7 separate regions of the Homo sapiens genome follow, and all the other regions are reported to be linked to region 7. Evidence: microRNA targets listed by miRTarBase, many of them from high-throughput screens and not tested one by one. Region 7 holds a microRNA gene; each other region holds the end of a gene's coding sequence.
What was found. The annotated mature microRNA hsa-miR-4768-3p reads CCAGGAGAUCCAGAGAGAAU and lies in region 7 at 1,809-1,828, opposite strand. An mRNA with a match to its seed (bases 2 to 7 or 8) in the 3' UTR can be bound and repressed. Matches are read on the target gene's strand: a 7mer-m8 pairs with bases 2 to 8, a 7mer-A1 pairs with bases 2 to 7 and ends in A, and an 8mer does both.

Region 1 (3,098 bases), not on the chromosome of region 7:
ATTTTAGTAAATGAAAATGGGCATCTAGCCAATATGATTCTTCAATAAACACAATCTATTTGCAAATAATTTAAATATGTTAAGCTATTCACAATTATATAAAAGTTCAACTTTATTTCTAATATTCAAGTTGGACTCATTTAGGCAATTTCACTTCATTTTCATTATGATTTTTTTTTCTTTTGAGACGGAGTTTTGGTTTTGTTGCCCAGGCTGGAGTGCAATGGTGCAGTCTTGGCTCACTGTAACTTCCGCCTCCTAGGTTCAAGCAATCCTGCCTCAGCCTCCCGAGTAGCTGGGATTAGAGGTGCCCACTACCACGCCCAGCTAATTTTTGTATTTTTAGTAGAGACGGGGTTTCACCACGTTGGCCAGGCTGGTCTCAAACTCCTGAGCTCCGGTGATATACCTGTCTCAGCCTCCCAAAGTGCTAGGATTACAGGCATGAGCCACCGCGTCCAGCCTTTTATCATGATGAATTTTAAAAGATATGCTTTAAAACTGAAAATTACAAAACTTTCCTTCTGAAATTAAGGCTGTATTCTTTGCCCTTTTAAACTATGGAGGTGCCTGTTCCTCCTACTATCCATGGTAAAGATGCAGACACAACTTTCCTTTAAAACTGCTTATTGCACTAAAAGATAGCAAAAACAAGTTGTCAGTTCTTAAAATAAACATGATTATATTTCTATAAAAGATGCTGCCAATACAATTCTATAATTATTAAAGCACTATTCTAATAAATATAAAAGAAAAGGAAGCTATACTTCCAAACACATACATATGTGTTTATATACACACACATACATATATATATATAAAAAATATATGAAAATCACATTAAGGTATGAGAGGCAGCAAGTAAACTATCAAAAAACAAAACAAAAAAATCCCTCAACAAACTCTTCTCTCTACTCAATTTCAGAGGTCTCAACCCTACAGAGCTCTAATCTTTTAAAATATTTACCCTTTATAAAACCTTTAAAGAATTTCCATGTATAACCCATAGAAACAGAAGGCTTCAGAATACACATCACTTACCAGAGAGAAAGTTACAACTTCTGACAGGTTTTATATTTATAGCAGCTTTAACAAACTCACTAAAGAAAAAGAATAGTAGGCCGGGTGCGGTGGCTCATGCCTGTAATCCCAGCACTTTGGGAGGTCGAGGCGGGTGGATCACAAGGTCAAGAGATCGAGACCATCCTGGCCAACACGGTGAAACCCCGTCTCTACTAAAAATACAAAAATTAGCTGGGTGTGGTGGCACATGCCTGTAAACCCAGCTACTCGGGAGGCTGAGGCAGGAGAATTGCTTGAACCCGAGAGGCGGAAGTTGCAGTGAGCCGAGATCTCGCCACTGCACTCCAGCCTGGTGACAGAGCGAGGCTCTGTCTCATTAAAAAAAAAAAAGAAAGAAAAGAAAAAGAAAAAAGAAAAAGAATAGTTCAGGTTGCTACTGCTTATATACAAATTGCGCAAATGGTAAATGTATGTTCTGAGTGGGAGGGGAGAGACGCACTCTCACAGAAAGTTATTTTATGTATATATATGTGTGTGTCTGTGTCTGTGTATGTATGTATACATATATATATAAAATTTTGTTTCTTAAGACAGCAATATCAAGAGTTGAGAACTCAGAATTGTGTATGAGATAGGAGTCAGGAGTAGGGTATGCAAAATAAAAGTAGAATTCTAGTTTGCCATATTTTATATTCAAACGAACCAGATACATCAACATTTGAATGTCACTGGTAGGACTGGGAAAAAAATGTAGGTGATGAAGGCAAGGGAAATAGAGAAATAAAGGCGGTAGTGGGGGTAGAATAAAAGGGAAAGAAAATTCCCCAATGGAATGAACTCTAAAATATATAACAGACACATATATATCTATTATCAATCCAGATCTAGATATATATGCATATGAAGTATGGATGTATATATTTTAAAAATACACAGACACCTTTTACAAGAATATATGAATGCACATTAATTTTTTGCACACATAATTCTGAAAAATCACTTTGATTATTCATGAAGGTGTGTATTTTTTAAACCATCATTTACTTTTTCTTTACTTTTTTTTGCAAAGATAGTTGTGCTGCCAAGCAACTTGAGGTAAAGGCATTAAAAGGGTTAGACTACAAGAAATGAAAACAAAACAATTGCGATACTTCCTATAGGAGACCGCACAAAAAGCAGTTGGCTGGTTTCATATTGCATAATGATGCTGTGTTCCTTGATGAAGTAAACAATCTTCCTTGTATTAACATAAGGATCAGACCTTGGCCCCCACACAGTGTTGGTTTCTGTATGGCTGGAGGTGTCCTTACTCAATTGACTTCACTGGAAACATACGTTGTATGTCAATTCATCTTTCAGTACTTCCTCTCAGAGAATATACTTGGACTATTTAAGCGAAGTACATTGTGCGTAAGGTATCTTGGTGAATCTGTACAGCCTTGGCAAGAGCTTGTGGATCTCGCCCATTGCTTTGTCCTGAAACGTGACTTCCTTCAGCACTGTAAGAGAAGTGGCAATGAACACAAAAACAAACTTTCTATTCTGATGTAATAATTCCGAAAAATACTATTTGTTGTAGAAAATTTCAAAATTATTAACAAATAAGAGACTGGTGTAACAATCTATGTGTCCATCACTCAGCTTCAATCACTATTAACTCAAGGCCAATTTTGTTTTACTTCTCTCACCTCCCCAGAATTAATTAGAAGCAAACCTAGATATCGTATCATTTTGTCTATCTGTCTGAATGTATCACTTTATTACCAATAATCTCTCCTTTGAATTAATGTAGTAAAACAACTAAGTTACTACATGATTCTATTACTAATGAGCCTAGACAATATATTTCAATAGGAAACCTTGGGCAGTCAGTTCTGTCATCATTTTTCACATGGATCACTGACTCCGCTAATAGCTTGTGGAACTTGAAAATCCTACCATGCAGACAATATTGGGATTTGGGTGAGAACCTGTTATGCTTTTATATTACCTGTCATGTTCTTTGTCCACAAGATGATATCTGGCTCTAAATGCTACCAGGTGAGCATAATACGCTGGTGCAGGTATAGAAACAG
Region 2 (3,096 bases), not on the chromosome of region 7:
AGGGCCTATTACTATTGAGTAGGATAAAGAACTTCTCTGTTGCATGAGATTCATAAAACCTAAGAATTCAATTTGGAGTTCTTTAGTTGGTCCCACTTAAAATGTACAGCTTGCTTAGCTAGGAGGAAGGATCAGGTTGCTCTAGGTAGTTGAAGTCCCTTTTAAAAATAATTGCTACTCTAAAGAGAAGAAGGAATTAATGAAAGTGGTTCATAAAATCATTGATTTCTTTTATTTTTTGTTTTGACATGAAAGCAGAATGGACATTAGCAGCTACTATATATGAAGGGCATTTTGCCTGGTATAAGTATATTTTCTTTTTCTTTTTTTTTTTTTTTTTTTTTTTTGAGACGGAGTCTTGCTCTGTTGCCCAGGCTGGAGTGCAGTGGCATGATCTCACTGCCACCTCCACCTCCCGGGTTCAAGCGATTCTCCTGCCTCAGCCTCCTAAGTAGCTGGGACTACAGGCGTGCGCCACTGTGCCCAGCTAATTTTTGTATTTTTAGTAGAGACAGAGTTTCACCATGTTGGCTAGGCTGGTCTTGAACTCCTGACCTCAAGTGATCCACCCGCCTCAGCTCTCAAAGTGCTAGGATTGAAGGTGTGAGCAACCATGCCCGGCACAAGTATATTTTCATGGGTTTAGTCCTCACAGTATATCTGTGAGGTGGGTTGGTGGTATTTTCATTTTACAGAGCAGGAAATTGGGTCTCAGATAAGTTAATTTTAAGTAACTTTCATGAGGGCATATGGTAACAAGTGGCAGAGCTGATATTTATTATTAGTTAACTATTTTTGCTGTTTGTATGTGTAAGGGGTGGTTTTTTTTTTCATTTTTTTTACATGTAAAATGTAAAAATATTAGACATCCACATCTAAATGTAAAAATGATATTTCTTTTTTTTTAAGTCAGAAAACCAGTTTTCTTTTTTCTTTTGCTTTAGTCAGAAAGCCATAAAAACCATATTTAAATAGGATCAACTACTGTTTTTTAACATAACTGAGATTTGAACCGAGATTAATTTGGTTCCAAAGCTTATGCTAGGCCTTGGAGAATACAAAGATGAATGAAACCCCATTCATCTTGTTGATCTTGCAGACTAATGGAAAGGATTGACATGTGAGTTCATGTAGTACTCTGTTAAAAGTTAGATAGGATTCCAGATGAGAATGACAATGCTGGGGAAGATTTTTCCAAAGGAGGTAGCCTTTGAGTGAGTCAGATAGTGAAAAGTGAAATGGTGCCTGGTAGAGAAGGCATACATAGGCAGTGACAGGGTATGGAGCTAAAACCAGTCTTCTAGAGTTTTTCTCTGTAAGTTGTTAATAGACATTTTAAAGCAGAGAGGAATGGAAGAGTGGAATAACGATGATGGTAATAGTTTAAGAAGCATTTTGGACCAGGCATGGAGGCTCACGCCTGTAATCCCACCATTTTGGGAGGCCGAGGCGGGTGGATCACTTGAGGTCAGGAGTTTGAGACCAGTCTGGCCAAGATGGTAAAACCCTGTCTCTATTAAAAATAACAAAAATTGGCTGGGCATGGTGGCCGATGCCGGTGATCCCAGCTGCTTGGGAGGCTGAGGCAGGAGAATAGCTTGAACTCTGGAGGCGGAGTTTGCAGTGAGCTGAGATCATACCACTGCACTCCAGCCTGGGCGACAGAGTGAGACCCTGTCTCAAAAAAAAAAAAAAAAAAGCATTCAGAAGGAGATGCTAAGGGAGGTTGGTGGTATAAGAAACATCTTTTAATTTAAACATATTTCCCATTAAAACCACCTATTCAACTTTCATGTAAATCTTGTAAAGAGACGTTTCAATATTTAGTGTGAATATTTTGTTAATTAGATGTAGCAGAAAAATAACGCTTTGATGGGCAAAATTGCTGTTCAGATGATCTTGAAATAAAGAAGTTTTTAAAGCAATTTTTATATACTTTTTATTATTTAGCAATACATGTTTATCATAGAAATTTAAGAACCTAAGTAATACAAAGAAAGTAAGGATTACCTTTAATTAAGAACCTAAGTAATACAAAGAAAGTAAGGATTACCTTTAATCAATAAACAAAGATAAACTTTTGGAGGGAGCATATACCATTCCAGTCACTAAGTAAGGTTTTAATATTCAGATTCCAGAATTCTGATCAATCAATGGCTATGTTTCACACTTCTTTAAATTAAAAAATTTTCTATCTTTACATATTTTAGTGACTGAATTACCATGGCGTAATTGAGAGTTTGGATTTATTATGGTACATTCCGATTTCTATTTAATACATAAGGTACCTGATTAAAATTTTAGCCTATTTGGTTAAATACTAACAATACAGGTTGCTATTACTCTTGTCTTACTACCAATTAGACATTTCTCAGAATGCTAAAGCAAGAAGGAACCTTAAAAACTTATCTGGCCGCGCCCAGTGGCTCATGCCTGTAATCCCAGCACTTTGGAGGACAAGGCGGGCGGATCACGAGGTCAGGAGATGGAGACCATCCTGGCTAACATGGTGAAACCCCGCCTCTACTAAAAATACAAAAAATTAGCTGGGTGTGGTGGCGTGTGCCTGTAGTCCCAGCTACTTGGGAGGCTGAGGCAGGAGAATCCCTTGAACCCAGGAGGCGGAGATTACAGTGAGCCGAGATTGCGCCACTGCACTCCAGCCTGGGCGAAAGAGCGAGACTCCGTCTCAAAAAAAAAAAAAAAAAAATTGTTTTCCTTCTCATGTTACAAATGTAGATGCGATGTGTTTCTTTCAAGCTTTTGTTTCCAATGACATTAGTTTAGGTTTTCTTTTGTTTAGCTCTCACTTGATTGCAGTCTTCTTTCTTTCAGGTCAGACTGTTTTTCCATCTTTCGGCCAATGGTACAAAAAAAAAGGAAACTGAAGAGAGGAGATAGCATATGCCAGAGAAGTAGAAAGAGCCATTGTATGTCTGGGTATAATCATATAACCAGCCTGGAAGGAAGGAATGATTTCTGTTAGGGAAGGAAATTTTGCCATTAGTAACTCTCAGCCATGAATAGCTCCTCAAAGCAAGGAGCCTCCTGTATTGTGACCCATTTGAACTTAGTGAAGCTTCTTAGCTGCCCTAT
Region 3 (3,000 bases), not on the chromosome of region 7:
GAACTGTGCAGGGCCATATGAATGTCACGGCTTTGCACACACATAGTGGACACCCACATCAGAAACTTCCTTTCTTGGCTTCAGAGGGGCAGCTGGGAATCTGACCTAGTGATCATACACACTGTAGGAAAGGGGTTGGGGAAATCCCCGTATGTAACTTTGCTTTTCTTTCTCTTCTAGCTTAATCGAACCCTGAAGAAGATGGGACAGAGACCTTGATGATATTCACACACATTCAGGAACCTGTTTTGATGTATTATAGGCAGGAAGTGTTTTTGCTACCGTGAAACCTTTACCTAGATCAGCCATCAGCCTGTCAACTCAGTTAACAAGTTAAGGACCGAAGTGTTTCAAGTGGATCTCAGTAAAGGATCTTTGGAGCCAGATTTGTCGTCTCATTATTGTAGGAGAGAATTTGTGGGTTGTGGCAGTAATACATTTCCCATGTGTCCTGATGCTTTCAGGATACATCAGTTGTTAGTGTTTAAATTGAGTTATTTTTATTTTGTGCTTTTGAGATGGAGTCTCACTCTGTCTCCCAGGCTGGAGTGCAGTAGCGTGATCTCAGTTCGTTGCATCCTCCGCTGCCCAGGTTCAAGCAGTTCTGCCTCAGCCTTCCAAGTAGCTGGGATTACAGGCGTGTGCCACCACACTCAGCTAATTTTTGTATTCTCAGTAGAGATGGGTTTTACCATGTTGGCCAGGCTGGTCTCGAACTCCTGGCCTCAAGTGATTCGCCTGCCTTGGCCTCCCAAAATGTGCTAGGATTACAGGCATGAGCCACCACGCCCCGCCTAAATTCAAAATCTTTTTGTTTTTTTTTAGACGGAGTCTCACTCTGTCGCCCAGGTTGGAGTGTACTGGCGCGATCTCGGCTCACTGCAAGCTCCACCTCCCAGGTTCCTGCCATTCTCCTGCCTCAGCCTCCCAAGTAGCTGGGACTACAGGCACCCGCCACCATGCCCGGCCAATTTTTTGTATTTTTTAGTAGAGATGGGGTTTCACCGTGTTAGCCAGGATGGTCTCAGATTTCCTGACCTCGTGATCTGCCCATCTCTGCCTCCTAAAGTACTGGGATTACAGGCGTGAGCCACCGTGCCCAGCCCTAAATTGAATTCTTAAATCCCTCTTGTTCATAAAGCAGTATATTTGGTTTACAGGACATTTTCACGTTCAGTATTTTGTTTGTGCGTCACAAGATCCTATGAACTTTAAATGACCTATAATTTTCATGACATATTTGTGGCAGTGCTGGGTCCTGGAAGGAAACTATTGAACACCTCCTACTGCCAGGAACTGTGCAAAGAGGGATCCATATACATTACTTACACCTTACAACTCAGGTTTAGTAGTAGTTCCTCATCTTATTGATGAGGAAATGAACCCACAGTAGTTAGTGACTTGATCAAGGTCACATTAGGCAGCTGCTGGAGCTGAGCTAAATGGTTTCCTGCCTACCCACAGTATTAATGCTATGCCTGTCACCCTATAGTGGGTACTTGGACTGGAAGCCCCTGCTTGCAAGTTGTCTCACATCTCTGCCTGGTTCCTTGTATATAAAATAAGGTTAGCAGGCCAGGCGCGGTGGCTCACGCCTGTAATCCCAGCACTGGGAGGCCGAGGCGGGCGGATCACAAGGTCAAGGAGATCGAGACCATCCTGGCTAACATGGCGAAACCCTGTCTCTATTAAAAATACAAAAAAATTAGCCGGGCGTGGTGGCGGGCGCCTGTAGTCCCAGCTACTCGGGAGGCTGAGGCAGGAGAATGGCGTGAACCCGGGAGGCGGAGCTTGCAGTGAGCCAAGAGATCGTGCCGCTGGACCCCAGCCTGGGTTACAGAGCGAGACTCCGTCTAAAAAAAATAAAAAATAAGTGTAGCAGAACCTGGCTCACTGGGCAGTGGTGACGAATAAATGAGAATGCTATTTTGAGTGCCCAGTGCAGTGCCTGGCCTATAATGGATGTTCAGTTACTGTTTCCCCACACTTGGAATTCGTAAGCTTTTCAGTATGCTCTTTTTCCCCATTGGTTTGATAATTATTATTGGGAACTGAATGGTGGTTCCCAAGAAGACATGTCCATATCCTAAGCCCTGGATGCCATCAGCATGACCTTATTTGTTTGGCTGGCATGCAGTGGCACGATCTCTGTTCACTGCAACGTCTGCCTCCCAGGTTCAAGCTATTCTACCTCAGCCTCCCAAGTAGTTGCATGCCACCATGCCTGGCTAATTTTTTGTATTTTTATTTTTGTTTATTTTTTTGAGACAGAGTTTTGATCTTATTGCCCAGGCTGGAGTGCAATGGCGCGATCTCGGCTCACTGCAACCTCCGCCTCCGGGGTTCAAGCGGTTCTCCTGCCTCAGCCTCCCAAGTAGCTGGGACTACAGGTGCACGCCACCACGCCTGGCTAATGTTTGTAGTTTTAATAGAGACGAGGTTTCGCGATGTTGGCCAGGCTAGTCTCGAACTCCTGACCTCAGGTGATCTGCCTGCCTCAGCCTCCCAAAGTGCTGGGATTATAGGCGTGAGCCACTGCGCCTGGCTTTTTGTATTTTCAGTAGAGACTGGGTTTCACCATGTTGGTCAGGTGGGTCTCAAACTCCTGACCTCAGATGATCACCCATCTCGGCCTCCCAAAGTGCTGGGATTACAGGCATGAGCCACAGTGCCCGGCCTTCTTTGTTTTGTTTTTGTTTTTGTTTTTGAGATGGAATCTCGCTCTGTCGCCCAGGCTGGAGTGCAGTGGTGCAATCTCAGCTCACTGCAACCTCCACCTTCTGGGTTCAAGAGATTCTCCTGCCTCAGCCTCCTGAGTAGCTGGGACTACAGGCACCATTTCTCCTGCCTCAGCCTCCTGAGTAGCTGGGACTACAGGCACCCACGACCACACCTTGCTAATTTTTATATTTTTTTAGTAGAGATGGTATTTTGCCATGTTGGCCAGGCTAGTCTCAAACTCCTGACCTCAGGTGATCTGCCTGCCTCAGCCTCCCATAG
Region 4 (3,098 bases), not on the chromosome of region 7:
TCTATGCTTTTTTTCCTCCTTTACTCTCTTCAGCTACCTTTAGTATCCATTTTACCCATTTTTCTCTTTTATTAGTTAGGTTGAGCCATATTAAATAACAGTTTTTTTGGGTCAAAACTGGTTGAATATCAGCAGTTCCATATAGTTCAACCTAATAATACCATTGAAAGGAAAGGAGGGAAGAAGACATAGAATAACTTAAAATATATAACGAGGGCTTGAAAACTTAAACATAAAATTTGAGTATTTTAAAACATTGTTTCATAGTTACTACTTTTATATTATTGAGACGTAACAGTATTTACCATCCTCCTAATTTTTTTCTTCGTTTTCCCCCTTTTCTTTTTTAGCCAAGTCTGAAACTAGCTGGGAATCTCCCAAACAAATAAAAAAGAAGAAAAAAGCCAGACGAGAAACGTGAAATTTTTTTTCCTGAATTGGACATGTGTTTGCAAACACTTGTCTTGAAGATTATGCTGTTTATGCAATAATTTGTGAACATGTACAGAGTTTTATATAAATTTAAACCAATTTTTAAAACAAAACTGCGGACACCACCATAAAAATGGAATCAAAAGAAAGTTAATTTATGAAATTAAGAGGTCAGCAGAATATACTCAGTGATGGAAGACACTTGGGAAAGTCTTTTTAATAGAACAAGAACGATCTTAATTTAAGAATATTATCCTGGTTTAACAACAGTGCCCTGTTTACAACAGATTGTGCCCTATCTCATCTGCAGCCGAGGAATAAAGGATTCTGATTAGAAAGAGGGTTGCCTACAGATTAGTAAGCAATTCCTTGGATCTTATGCACAGAACTTGTACCATTTGAATCTGTTTTATGCTTAAATCAAAGTGCTTTGATCAAATGCATAACCTGCCATATCTTTACATATTTGTTGGTAGCAATTTGTATTAAAGAAATCACAAGTGCAAATAAAAAGTCATTTATCATTTGTTTAACTAAACTGTCATGGTTTAGTTTACAATTTTTAAAAAGTTCTTAAAATACTGAAAATGCAGTTGACACTTGTGTATGGCTTATGAAGTTATTTTTGATAGTCTTACATTACTTGAATTGTTCAAAGTACAGTATATTTTAAATTAAGAAAAGTGAACTATATGTATTTGTTTTATACATTTAAGGCTTAGACTCATAAATAATGCTATTGTTTATGATTTGAAAACTTTCAGGCAAAATCCAATTTACATTTTTCCCTTCCCTAGCAATTACTTTTTTCCAGCTTCAACTCTTCTTAGTTACTAATACTTTGTTGACTTTAAAAATGAAATCATTCACAAACTTTTGGTATATGATGGAGAATGAAAAACTAGAGTCAGACAGCTTTAATTGACATTGTCAACACCTCCAGTTATCAGGAATACATTTTTTTACTGCCTTAACCTGTAGTGCGTAGAATATGCATCAATTTCTTGAAGGAGATTCATGTTTTTATAAGAATTTTCATGTAATTATTGCAATTGTGGTCAAATAAGGAACGTTTCCTGCTTGAAATTATATTGATTTAAATGATGTGTGAGATGTTTCACCATTTTCAGGCACTGTGTAATTCTATTGTAATAAACTGGCAGGTATCTTTGTAACTATAAATAGTGCATGCTCAGCCATGTACACTGTAAATAGCCTTTACCAAACGTGTTTGACAAGGACCATAATTAACATCACTTAGTGAATTGTGATAAAGAAAAAAAAGCCATGATTTATTCGATGTGATTGGCTTGTTTTTATGTGGCGCCAAGAACGAACCTGTTTAACAGCTGTAACCAATGGTACTGATCTATCCATCCAATGTTGTCATTATATTTGACTGTGGTTCAACAGTATTGCGTTGTCAGACTAGGAAAGCTAAACGAACAAAATGGTTTTAGTTTTGCTGAAGACTGGCCTTATTAATGGACAGCTTTCCTAACAAGAGATTATTAACTTTTATCAGGTGTTAACATCTGTTTCAGGAACATGGCAGTATGTTTACATGTCAGAAGTTTTGTTTAATTCTATGGTATTTCTAAATTGACTTGTTTAAATAAATTCAGCAAATGGATAGCATTGTTTTTTATTTGCTTCAATATGGGGGTAGATAATAGCTAAAGAGCCAAGGATGAATTTCTTCAAATGACTTTATTCTGTTAGCTTTACATAGGTGTTGGAGGATTCCTAAGGTGTCAGCATTTTGTAAAGGTACCACAAAGGAGAAGTTGATAGGGAATCTAATTTTAGAATGTGCCAAATGGTCTGTGCTCAACAATATAATTGAACTCTCTCAACTCTACCTCACCATTTCTTTATCTCAAAATTCTGTTGGCTTTGTCAAACGTTGGATTTTATTTCTGCAGCCTAGTATCTCCCCATTCTACCACCTATGCCAGATGTTAAAGACAGCAGATGTTTTGAGGAGAATGGCATTGTGGAGATGCAGAGATGCGTTGCTAAGTTGAGGTGGATCCAGTATAGAGATACCTCTATTTCTTCTTTATGGCTCAAGAGCTAGGACTTGGATTTTGTTTTAAGAGATGGCAGCTGGCCGGGTGCAGTGGCTCACGTCTGTAATCCCAGCACTTTGGGAGGCCGAGGCAGGTGGATCACGAGGTCAGGAGTTCAAGACCAGCCTGGCCAAGAGGGTGAAACCCCATCTTTACTAAAAATACAAAAAAAAAAATTAGCTGGGTGTGGTGGTGGGCTCCTGTAATCCCAGCTACTCAGGAGGCTAAGGCAGAGAATCATTTGAACCCAGGAGACGGAGTTTGCAAAGCCAAGATCGTGCCACTGCACTCCAGCCTGGGCAACAGAAGGAGACTCCGTCTCAAAAAAAAAAAAAAGATGGCAGCTATATAAATGATAAAATTAATTACATTCTCTTTCACATGCATGAGGTGCAAACTCTGTCACAAAGTATTTTAATTACCTTTTACCTTGTTTCATAGATCTTTATGTGACATAAAAACAGTTTCTGGCACGGTGGCTCACGCCTGTAATCCTAGCACTTTGGGAGGCTGAGGCAGGTGGATCACCTGAGGTCAGGAGTTTGAGACCAGCCTGGCCAATATGGTGAAACCCCATCTCTACAAAATTTGCAA
Region 5 (3,098 bases), not on the chromosome of region 7:
CTCCCGGATTCAAACAATCCTCCCACCTCAGCCTCCTGAGTAGTTGGGACTACAGGTGTGTGCCACCATGCCCAGCTAATTTTTTTTTTTGATGTTTTGCAGAGATGGAGTCTCCCTGTATTGCCCAAACTGGTCTCAAACTCCTGGCCTCAAGTGATCCACCCACCTTGGCCTCCTAAAGTGTTGGGATTACAGGTGTGAGACACTGCACTCATTTTTAGGTAAATTACAACCCCTAAGGTTTTTTGTGGTTGAGAAACATACTAGCTCTCATAATACTGGGATAAGAGTTTCTGGGCTCCACAGGTTTTGCAGATTATTAAGTGGCTGTCTGTCTGTCTATCATGAATCAGCCTCCCAACATTAAATCTCTTCATTCAGAAAAGATAGAGGAAGATTTTCTTTTTTAAAAAAAGTTTATTTTCCACACTATTTGTACAGCTGTAAACTCAAGGAATCATCCAATACTTGTACAAATCTGGGAGAACAGTTAATAAGCACCTTCAGTGGTTTCCACAGTTTAAGAATTTACCATTAAAAAATTTTAGAATAAATCTAATAAAATGAATAAAATAGTTATAAAAATCATACAAAATCATGATGAACATTTGATATAGAGGGTTTAATATGAAACGATAAATACAAAAAGTGAGACTAATTTATGGATTTGGGCTACGTAAAAGACCTACATGGTCCTCGAATCTTGTGATTCTTGGGGCTATATTTGCCTCTCAAGACAAACTCCAATTATTCAAGGAAGACTTTCTTTCAATTCAGGTTCCAATGTACTGCAGAAGCAAGTGAGGACAAAGTCAGGAGAAGGTGGGGCAGAGAGGCTGAGTGTACTGGGGTTTGAGGAAAAGAGGAGAGACTCTTTTCCCCAAAGAGAGTATCAGGCAAATTCTTCCATGTTCTCAAGTATAAGTGGTCTTTGGCAAAATGTACCATTTTCTTTTTGGAGTTACTTAAGAGTTTTACTTATTGCTGTTCTTAAATTCCTTCCCCTACCACTTCCTCTTGGGCTTTTTTATTTCTCTTGTTGATCAATCTCTTTTTTGTGATACTTTTCATTGAATCATCTCGACTCCTTTATCCCATCCTTTACTGACTCAAACTCCTTATGCTGAACTTTTCAATCCAAAATTTCTATTGTTTTAGGACTCTGGGAAGCAGTTGATAAAAAGATAACACGAGCTACTGATATGGTCAGGAGATGTTTTCTAAACAAATTGTAGAAATATAAACATGAAATGTGGCAATGATCCCTTTAATTAGATCATTGAGCAATAAAGGATATGAACCATTAGTATAAATATTCAATTCAGTCTTTCCGGATTGTGTTGTTAGATAAGAATACATCCAAAAAGGGCCACAGATCGAGGGAGAAACCAAGGAGGGGTGAGGTCATGGTTGAGTGTAAATTGGTTCTGTCATGTGGAGGCCGGAGGTGAGGGACTGTGGTGGGACATCATCTGGTGCCAGCCCCATCCTGTACCTCAGATAGGTCTCCGTGAAAAGGAGGGACATCAGTGCAAGCAGTGGGGCTAAAGACCAGCACAGCAACAGAGACTAGAACCTTGGATGCAAGTATTTTGGGCAAAGAGGAATAATTAGTAATCTTTGGTATAATTTAAGGCACATCAAAAAAATCCCCTATTCTCAAATATCTGACCTACACCTTGAAATTCCTACCATTGGACATTCTTTTGATTTAAGCCTTTAACTAACAAATGCCAATATCCTACTGCTCAAATATTGACATTCTATCTGGGAGGGGCTGCTCATTATCATCCACCAAATGCCCATAGATCTCTAGGACAGGGTAGGTTTTGATGAAAAAGCAGCGCATGAATATTATAATGGGGGTCTTAGACAAGATGATGATGGTGAGGAACTGAGGAGTAAAACTATAGGACTATAATAAAGAAGAAATTCAGAGCACCAAAACAAAACATTAAGGAATGCTAATTTCCTCCTTAACTCCCAACTTTTCCTAGTCAGGCCCCGGCTCATAGGTCAAGGAGCTGACAGGACGGTGGGTACCTCAAAGCGAGGCTGAGCTCATAAGGCCACAGGGAAGGGTGCAACTCAAATTTGGGAGGTTCTGTTCACCACTGGGGGGCTAGTATTGGGAAAAGGTCCTAGGACACTGGGATGGGCATGTAATCCTCACTCAGGGGTGTATAAGTCTGTCTGAGGGTTGGGGGTAGGGGTGGAGGGTTCTGTCCTTGTGTAGGGGTGGAGACTTTTCTATTAGAGAAGTCCAGGGTGCATGTTTTGGGGAACAGTGAGGGAAAAGTTGTTGGGGCTCAGGCTGGGCTGGGTCTGGGCCTAGTGGCCACTCAGCCAGAGGACACTTTTCAATCTGGACCAAGTTGCTTCAAGTAGAGTGTTGCTGTGAAATACTTGGAAAGGAAATAAGGCACTCTTGTCTTCATTTCTGTTCGATACAGTCAACTCCCAAGGTGTTGTCAGGGCAACGGCAGGTCCTGCTCCCTGGGGTGGCCAAGCATAGGTGGGTGCAGCCGCCATTGTTCACTGAGCAGTAGTTATGGCCTGGAAAAGGCAGAAATCAGTTCAATAGCCCTCTCTCTGATCTGACTCCATAGCCATTTAAGATAGTGGGCTCCTTCTTGTGTGTGATCCCCCTTTTAGTTTCCTTGAAGCCATGCTAGGAAGGCTTCAGGAGAATGGGGACACTGTGCTAGGCAGTCAGCTGAGCTGATCCATTGTTTGTTTTATCAGCATTAAACCAGACACAAACACTGATTCCCAACTTGGGGGTTATGCAGATTTTCTACTAAGGCTATTAAACAGATCTCAGGGGGAAGTTCTCCAGCTCTGATTATAACATAGAATTGGAATTTTAAAGTGCAAAGTTCTTTTTATGTAGCTTGCACTCCTAGCTTCACACTGACAGAAGAAGATGAGGGAAGCTGAGAAGGAAAGTGGGTGAGGGGAGAGGCCTTCAAGAGGCAGCATAGCATAGACTCCAGGGCCAGGCTGCCTGGACTTGCCCCTGTGAGCTGTGTGACTTGGAGCAAGTTGCTTCAGTTTGCTTATTTATGAAATGAACATAATAATAGTACCTACCTCAC
Region 6 (3,098 bases), not on the chromosome of region 7:
GTACTAATGAAGTGGTTGGCACATAGACTATTTTCTTTTTCATCTTTTAGAGTGCTAACTATTACACAATGGGGCCTAGACTAGATATTTTAAAATCAGTGTCTTTAGGAATTGTTTGAGATGATTAGAATACAAATTCTTGAACTTCATCACCAAGTTTCTATTTCAGTAGGTCAGGGAAGCACATTTTGAAGAACACTAAAATAGACCTTCAATGTTTGAATCCAATTATGCATAAGGTATTAATATAAGAATTATACATAAGATATTGATATAATACTACACTAATATAAGGTACTATTTGTAGAGTTATACACTGCTGAATATACTGTGCTAATTACAAAGTATTTATGACTCTTGTGAGGACCACTTGACAAGGTTGCTATATATATGTAAAAAAACCCTCTGCACTTCCTCATTTGACTTACTACTGAGTAAAATTAGCTTATCTTCTCAAAATGCAGTTTTTGTTAGAAAATATAATTTTGAACTAAGATTTTTGCAAACCAGGCAAGTTCTTCATCCACTCAAGGAGAAACTTTAAAATCCACTTAAAATGAAGAGCATTCCTCCCCGACTCAATTTTCTAACTACATATTATCTTCATAGCATTAACACCAGCCAGAATTTATATTATGTAGAGCACTAAAAGCTTCTTAGACTTGTACCTCAGGCTTTTAATTTTGCAGGGGGAAAAGTTAGTATGTCGATTTATCCTAACACTTGAGATATAAAGAACTTTATAAACAGCTCTAAAGGAACATAAAGCACATAAAGGGACACCATATTATACCTTGATTTGATTACTTCATCATTTTCACTGAAATCTGGCCATGGTAGGTTTGGCCGTGGCTGCCAAATGGTATAGAGTACCTGCCTCTTGAATGGATTTATGGGGTCACTTAAGGTATACTTCGAGGCAGATGGCTGGGCTAATAGTTACTTACTTACTCTTGGGAAATGAAATAAAAAATGCTCACACTTGGAAGTGTTTTTTTTGTCAAATTCTATGCAGGATATCAAACAGAAATTTGAAAAATTCTTAAATGACATATACCTATTCATTAACACCCACTGCTCTAGATGACATCCATTAGTTATTACTGGGATCAGATGCTTTTAGGACATCTTTAAAATATTTTGTTATTTTAACTGTAGTTCTTTATAGCATTACGAAAGAAATATCACTCACATAAAGCACTAACAACTCTTTTTAGTACTGTGTCTCTCCCATGCAGTATGGTGCTTAATGTTACTGGAAAATATTGACAGGTTTAGCATTATTTCAACTAATTCTGGGCAAATCTAAATAGAATAGTATAACATGAAGAAATTTATAAATTTGAAATGTGAGTAAACTGGGACGGGAATGAGTTGATGAGTGAACCCAGTTGACCACTGGGCATTTGAATCTCAATGTTGCCTACACAGCATTATGAGTGTAATAATTTTCATTAGGTAACAAAACTGCTTCCTCACCTTTTTATATAGCTTAAACAAAAAAAAAGAAAAAAGATAAAAAAAAACCCTGCTTCTATGTAAACAAAAAAAAAGAAAGCCAACTATTAGTGCTAGGAATGAAAGACATCCAATCCAAGTAAGTGATGGTTCTTAACTATAAAATGGAAATTGTATAAAAATTAAAATAGAATGTAGAACTAGTAGGATAACATTGAAAAACTGACTACTTATATTTGTTTTTTTTATTTTGTGTGTGTTTTTGGCTGATTATATTTAATAAAAGCTACTTTTAGTATTTGAACTAAGTGCACATGTGTGCATTCACATACACAGGACAAGCTCCTCAGCTTTGAACAATATGAACTTTGGACAATATGACAACTATAGCATCACTGGGCAAAAAAAATAGCTGACTTATTTCCAAGTGTGTTTCCTGGGACTAGCAGTAGGTTCTCTCAAATTAAAAGTAAAGGCACCAGGCTATAAAGTGCCAATTCTTAGCACCAGAGAGACTTAAAATGTCACAGGTGAATGACATTACAAATCAGAGAATCTGCTGATCTAGTTCTGTGGAATTGTATTATTTTTGTCAAATGGAAAAAAAAAATCAAGGTTTATGCCAAATAGATTTAAACAGTTAAATCTTTCCTAAAATTTCCTAGAAGTGTATTTTACAATGCTATGTAAAATAAATTGCTGGCTTATAAAAAATGCTCAAAGTTTCAGAGATGTGAAAAATAACAAAGAACTGAAAACATAGTTTATATAAATCAAGGTCCCAGAAATGAAAATTAAAAGTAGTCTCTTTGAGAAAGGAATGGTGAAATTCAGCATGTAGTATTCACATTAACACATCTGAGAACTGTGGACAGCCAATATTGACTGGAATTCTAAATTGCCACCTGATACCTTTAATTAAGATTAAATCAAATCTGAGGCAAGACACTTAATGGACAGTACTTGAATGGGAAGACAGTAACTTCCTTCCTTGATAGACAATCTCCAGCCATCATTCAGAGTTCAGTTATTTGATGGCTTGGGAAGCAGTGTCCATTGAGTTTTCCTTTCTGGCTTGAAGAGACTCACTGCTGATGGACAATAATTCTCGAAGTTCCTTATTTTCAAGCTGGAAAAAAAAAGGCATGTTTATTTCTGGTATTTTTACTGTCCAACTGCATTACAACAACACATTATTTTGAGCCAGGAGCAGAAAACATTATTTTAATTTTAAAAAATTTATGGAAACAAAAAATCCACTAGTTGAGAATTTCCTTAAATACTACTTTATTCATTTAACAAACATTTACATGTAGGATGTAGGCAATGATACTCTTTTGTAGTAGTAATTTACTGAGTAATTTCTATATACCAAGTGTTAGGATTACAAAGGAGAAACAAAAAACAAGGTCCTCTCCATTTAAGGAATTCACTGTTATATTCTTCTTGGTTCCCACAGTTTTACTATTATTTCTTTTATTTAAAAAATTCCTAATAATCGTTTCACTCTGATTAATCTCCTCTCCTGGATATCTTACAGTTCTAGAGAAATGGAAGGAAAGGGGGAAAGAAATTACTTATTGAGCATGTAGCTGGGTACTACTTGGGTGCCCTGTATATGTTATCTCACAATAATCTGT
Region 7 (3,098 bases):
TAGACCTCCAATGTGGGTCACAGCTGGCAGTCTGACCCCAAGAAGTTTGAACCCAGCCTCTATTATCTGTGCAAGACAGAACTGTACTTCTGCTTTGGAGTTAATCCCAGAAGAATTTATTTCTTTTCCAGCCCTTCACATAGCTTGTGCTTTATGGTGGCAGACTCAATGGACCAAACCTTCAGCTGTGGGAATCATGGCTTCAGCCATTGAACACACACAGCCCAGTCAGCTGGCAGAGTGGACAATAAACCTACAAACACTCAGCAAGTCACTCAGGTTCTTGATTCAAGAGTAAATGGCTTCATAAACACAATCATAACAACAGCGGCATGAGTTGGTGCATGTCAATGTGTACATTTCGGTAGAGAGGGCCCAGAGACACGTATTTTGGCAGATGCTAGGTCTTGGCAAGACTGTAAGCAAAATCACAAAGCAGCCCAAGTCTGTGGTCAGTCCCAACTTCCTATCAGTACACCTTTTCCATCCAGGCACCCCATAAAGGTGGATTTGGTCTCTTCCACATTCCATTAAGTGTAGCCTCAATTCCCAACAAAAACCCACACCACACCTCTTTTAAGGAATTTTATAGGAAAACTTTACCTAAACATGTATCCCCAAATCCTCTGAACTAGCAAAATCCTATTCAGGTTTATCTCCATGTCAGAGAGATGGGAAATATATCAAGTTCTGTCAGCAGGTCAGCCAGGCCGAGCATGCCAAGTGATCTGGGGTTATAGACAGCAGATTAATCTCAAAGCTGGAACTTCTTTAAGACCAGGAAGTAGCCCCTTTTCTGATTAAAAGACAAGTCAATAATTCTGGGTCCTTGGTCCACCACTGTGATATGTCCCTTGCAAAACAGGCACTCTCAGGCAGTCTTCCCTGCAGAGCAACCATGATGGATACTGACTACTGACTTGAAAGTGCTTTGACACCCCCAGATGGAAGGAACTAATCAATTATGCTTCTCACTTAGAGGCACCCTGCTCATTCATGCTGAAGATAGAAGTCCAGATAAAAGTAGAATTACTGGGAGTCCAAGATCCAGAAAGAAAATGAGAGAGCTCAGCTGGTCACTGTGAATGATGTGCATGTGCCCCAAGCCTTTGAAACACATGACATTTTCCAGCAGCCAAGCACTCATCAAATTGCAGAATGTCGAAGCTACAAGGAAACTTAGCAATTATTTAATGATCTAAATTACTTTTATTATAGTGAAGAGGAAGCTGAGGCCTAGAGAGGTAAAATAACCTGTCATATAGCTGAGCAGCGAAAGGAACAGACTCATTACCCTAGTGATCTCCTGTCACACAACCCATCTCATGAAGCTCTCTCTCAGGTCGAGTTTAATAGATGAGAGAACAAGGGGTAGTCTGCCTATGCAAAGCAGGTACACACAATGAGATCAGAGCAAAGGGGATTTCCTCCCCTGAAGCTAAACAGCCCCCATAAGTGATGTTACGTGTTAGGATAATTTCCTTGGTGTGCTGGAAGATGTTTCACAAGCATGGGTGGTGGGGACCCTTATTTGCCATATTTGCCAATTTCTATAGTGTAAATACTCTCATCATGGCAGATTTCAAGCTACCAACTTGATGCCACTGAACAGCAGTTGGGGAGAGATATGTGCAATCAGCTCTTGTGAGCTGATAGAAGCTGGATCCTCCACACCACTGGAATTTCTGAGAAGTCTACATCACGGGTTTAGGAATGAAATAACTTTCTGGCCCACAAGAATAAAACACCCAGGTTTATGAGGAAAATCCTAGCAGCACACACTCTAGGTTTCACTCACTGAAACTCTGATTCTCTCTGGATCTCCTGGACATCACAGTTCCCATATCCATGGGATCCAGAGAGAATCAAAGTTTGGAGAAGTTACTTGGTCCATCATGTCTGTATCTCTGGGTAGTATCCTACCTAATTGATCCAAGGCAGGAGCACTGAGAGGTGGAATCCACATTCCCTATCTTAATGCTTTTGGCAACCAAGCATTCCTTTCCCAGCAGTAACAGGATCCAGTTTCCAAGGTGATATGTGAGCTCAGAGCCCCATCTTTACCAACGTCAAAGGCAGTGCTTGGATTCAGCTTCAGGTAGGCCTCCTCTGTTCATGTAAGCAGGAAGGAAAACATGTAAAACTGAATTCCTCCTCAATTTCTTTCTTTCTTTCTTTCTTTCTTTTTTTTTTTTTTTTTTTTTTTTTTTTTTTTTTTTTTTTTTTTTTTTTGGCTGAGAAGAGTTCCAAGGCTGGGGCAGCAACTCATCAGGAAAAGTTCTTAGCCTGTGCTTTCTTTTTGCCAAACATTGATTTGCTAATAGAGAAAATAACTGGTGTATAAACAAAAGTGGTTGATGACATCCAAGGGTCTGGAGCAATTCCTCCACATCGTTCTGACAGCTAACAAATGGAACTAGCTCTTAGGGAGCATGTTTAAGGAACAGCTGGAATATGTAACGGACATTTTTCTGTGAATTTGACAGGTCAAGCTCCATCACGGTTGAGCTACGCTCACCGGACGTGGATCAGAATGAACTCTGCCATTCCTCAGAAGGTTGCCAAGAGGGCTTTGAAGAGAAGGGAATCCAAGGAACTCAGTTTCAGACATGGAGAAGAATAAAGACCAGACAAATCATGAGCAAACCTGATTTAAAGAGAAAGATCTATAAATACCAGTTGCTCAGCTTTCTCCCTGGTTTCCTGACCCTATGATGAGCTCCACCAAAATTAAGTAAGTATAGCCCTTTCCAGAGGGTCACTTGGAGGGAAGATCCTGCCATATGTCGCCTATTGGTCTTTAGCCTCACCACCACCCCAACATCTGATAAAGTCAACAGACGTGAGTTCCTAAAGGATACAGAATATACAAGATACTTTCCCTTATACAAGGATTCACTCTAAGCATCGTTAAAATGGCAAACTCACCTGGGACCCCTAAGATAACCTGATTTACCAAAATCTGGTTTATCCTTAGCATATGAGGAGCACATCCATTCTCTAAAGCAAGGAGATTTTCAAGATCAATGAGCAGAGAAACTTCTCAAAAGAATTTTATAGAATTTTTTAAGATAACAAGCAAACTAACAAATGATTGA

Region 1: the mRNA of AGO3 is a reported target of hsa-miR-4768-3p. Seed matches in the 3' UTR shown: 7mer-A1 at 1,662-1,668 and 7mer-m8 at 1,305-1,311.
Region 2: the mRNA of SLC16A4 is a reported target of hsa-miR-4768-3p. Seed matches in the 3' UTR shown: 7mer-m8 at 2,597-2,603 and 8mer at 2,479-2,486.
Region 3: miRTarBase lists EIF3L as a target of hsa-miR-4768-3p. Seed matches in the 3' UTR shown: 7mer-m8 at 911-917.
Region 4: miRTarBase lists MTDH as a target of hsa-miR-4768-3p. The part of its 3' UTR that is shown has no 7-base or 8-base seed match.
Region 5: miRTarBase lists NID1 as a target of hsa-miR-4768-3p. Seed matches in the 3' UTR shown: 8mer at 1,207-1,214 and 8mer at 813-820.
Region 6: miRTarBase lists SIKE1 as a target of hsa-miR-4768-3p. The part of its 3' UTR that is shown has no 7-base or 8-base seed match.

The regions. Positions count from the first base shown.
Region 1 is chr1:36,055,061-36,058,158 of GRCh38, reverse strand. AGO3 (argonaute RISC catalytic component 3) reads right to left here. Exons shown (of 19, transcript NM_024852.4): 18 at 3,014-3,098; 19 at 1-2,522. The coding sequence ends at 2,414. Among named protein-coding and RNA genes, the nearest start is that of TEKT2, 27 kb to the left of the region's middle.
Region 2 is chr1:110,360,935-110,364,030 of GRCh38, forward strand. It overlaps SLC16A4 (solute carrier family 16 member 4), which reads right to left. Exons shown (of 9, transcript NM_004696.3): 9 at 1,923-2,959. The coding sequence ends at 2,832. Among named protein-coding and RNA genes, the nearest start is that of RBM15, 23 kb to the left of the region's middle.
Region 3 is chr22:37,888,246-37,891,245 of GRCh38, forward strand. It overlaps EIF3L (eukaryotic translation initiation factor 3 subunit L), which reads left to right. Exons shown (of 13, transcript NM_016091.4): 13 at 181-1,162. The coding sequence ends at 219. Among named protein-coding and RNA genes, the nearest start is that of MICALL1, 17 kb to the right of the region's middle.
Region 4 is chr8:97,724,250-97,727,347 of GRCh38, forward strand. It overlaps MTDH (metadherin), which reads left to right. Exons shown (of 12, transcript NM_178812.4): 12 at 351-3,098. The coding sequence ends at 421. Among named protein-coding and RNA genes, the nearest start is that of LAPTM4B, 50 kb to the right of the region's middle.
Region 5 is chr1:235,975,433-235,978,530 of GRCh38, forward strand. It overlaps NID1 (nidogen 1), which reads right to left. Exons shown (of 20, transcript NM_002508.3): 20 at 398-2,556. The coding sequence ends at 2,435. Among named protein-coding and RNA genes, the nearest start is that of LINC02768, 4.5 kb to the left of the region's middle.
Region 6 is chr1:114,771,786-114,774,883 of GRCh38, forward strand. SIKE1 (suppressor of IKBKE 1) reads right to left here. Exons shown (of 5, transcript NM_025073.3): 5 at 1-2,587. The coding sequence ends at 2,486. Among named protein-coding and RNA genes, the nearest start is that of SIKE1, 7.4 kb to the right of the region's middle.
Region 7 is chrX:17,424,657-17,427,754 of GRCh38, reverse strand. MIR4768 (microRNA 4768) reads right to left here and starts at 1,874; the gene lies at 1,801-1,874. All of the region lies in intron 1 of NHS (NHS actin remodeling regulator), which reads right to left.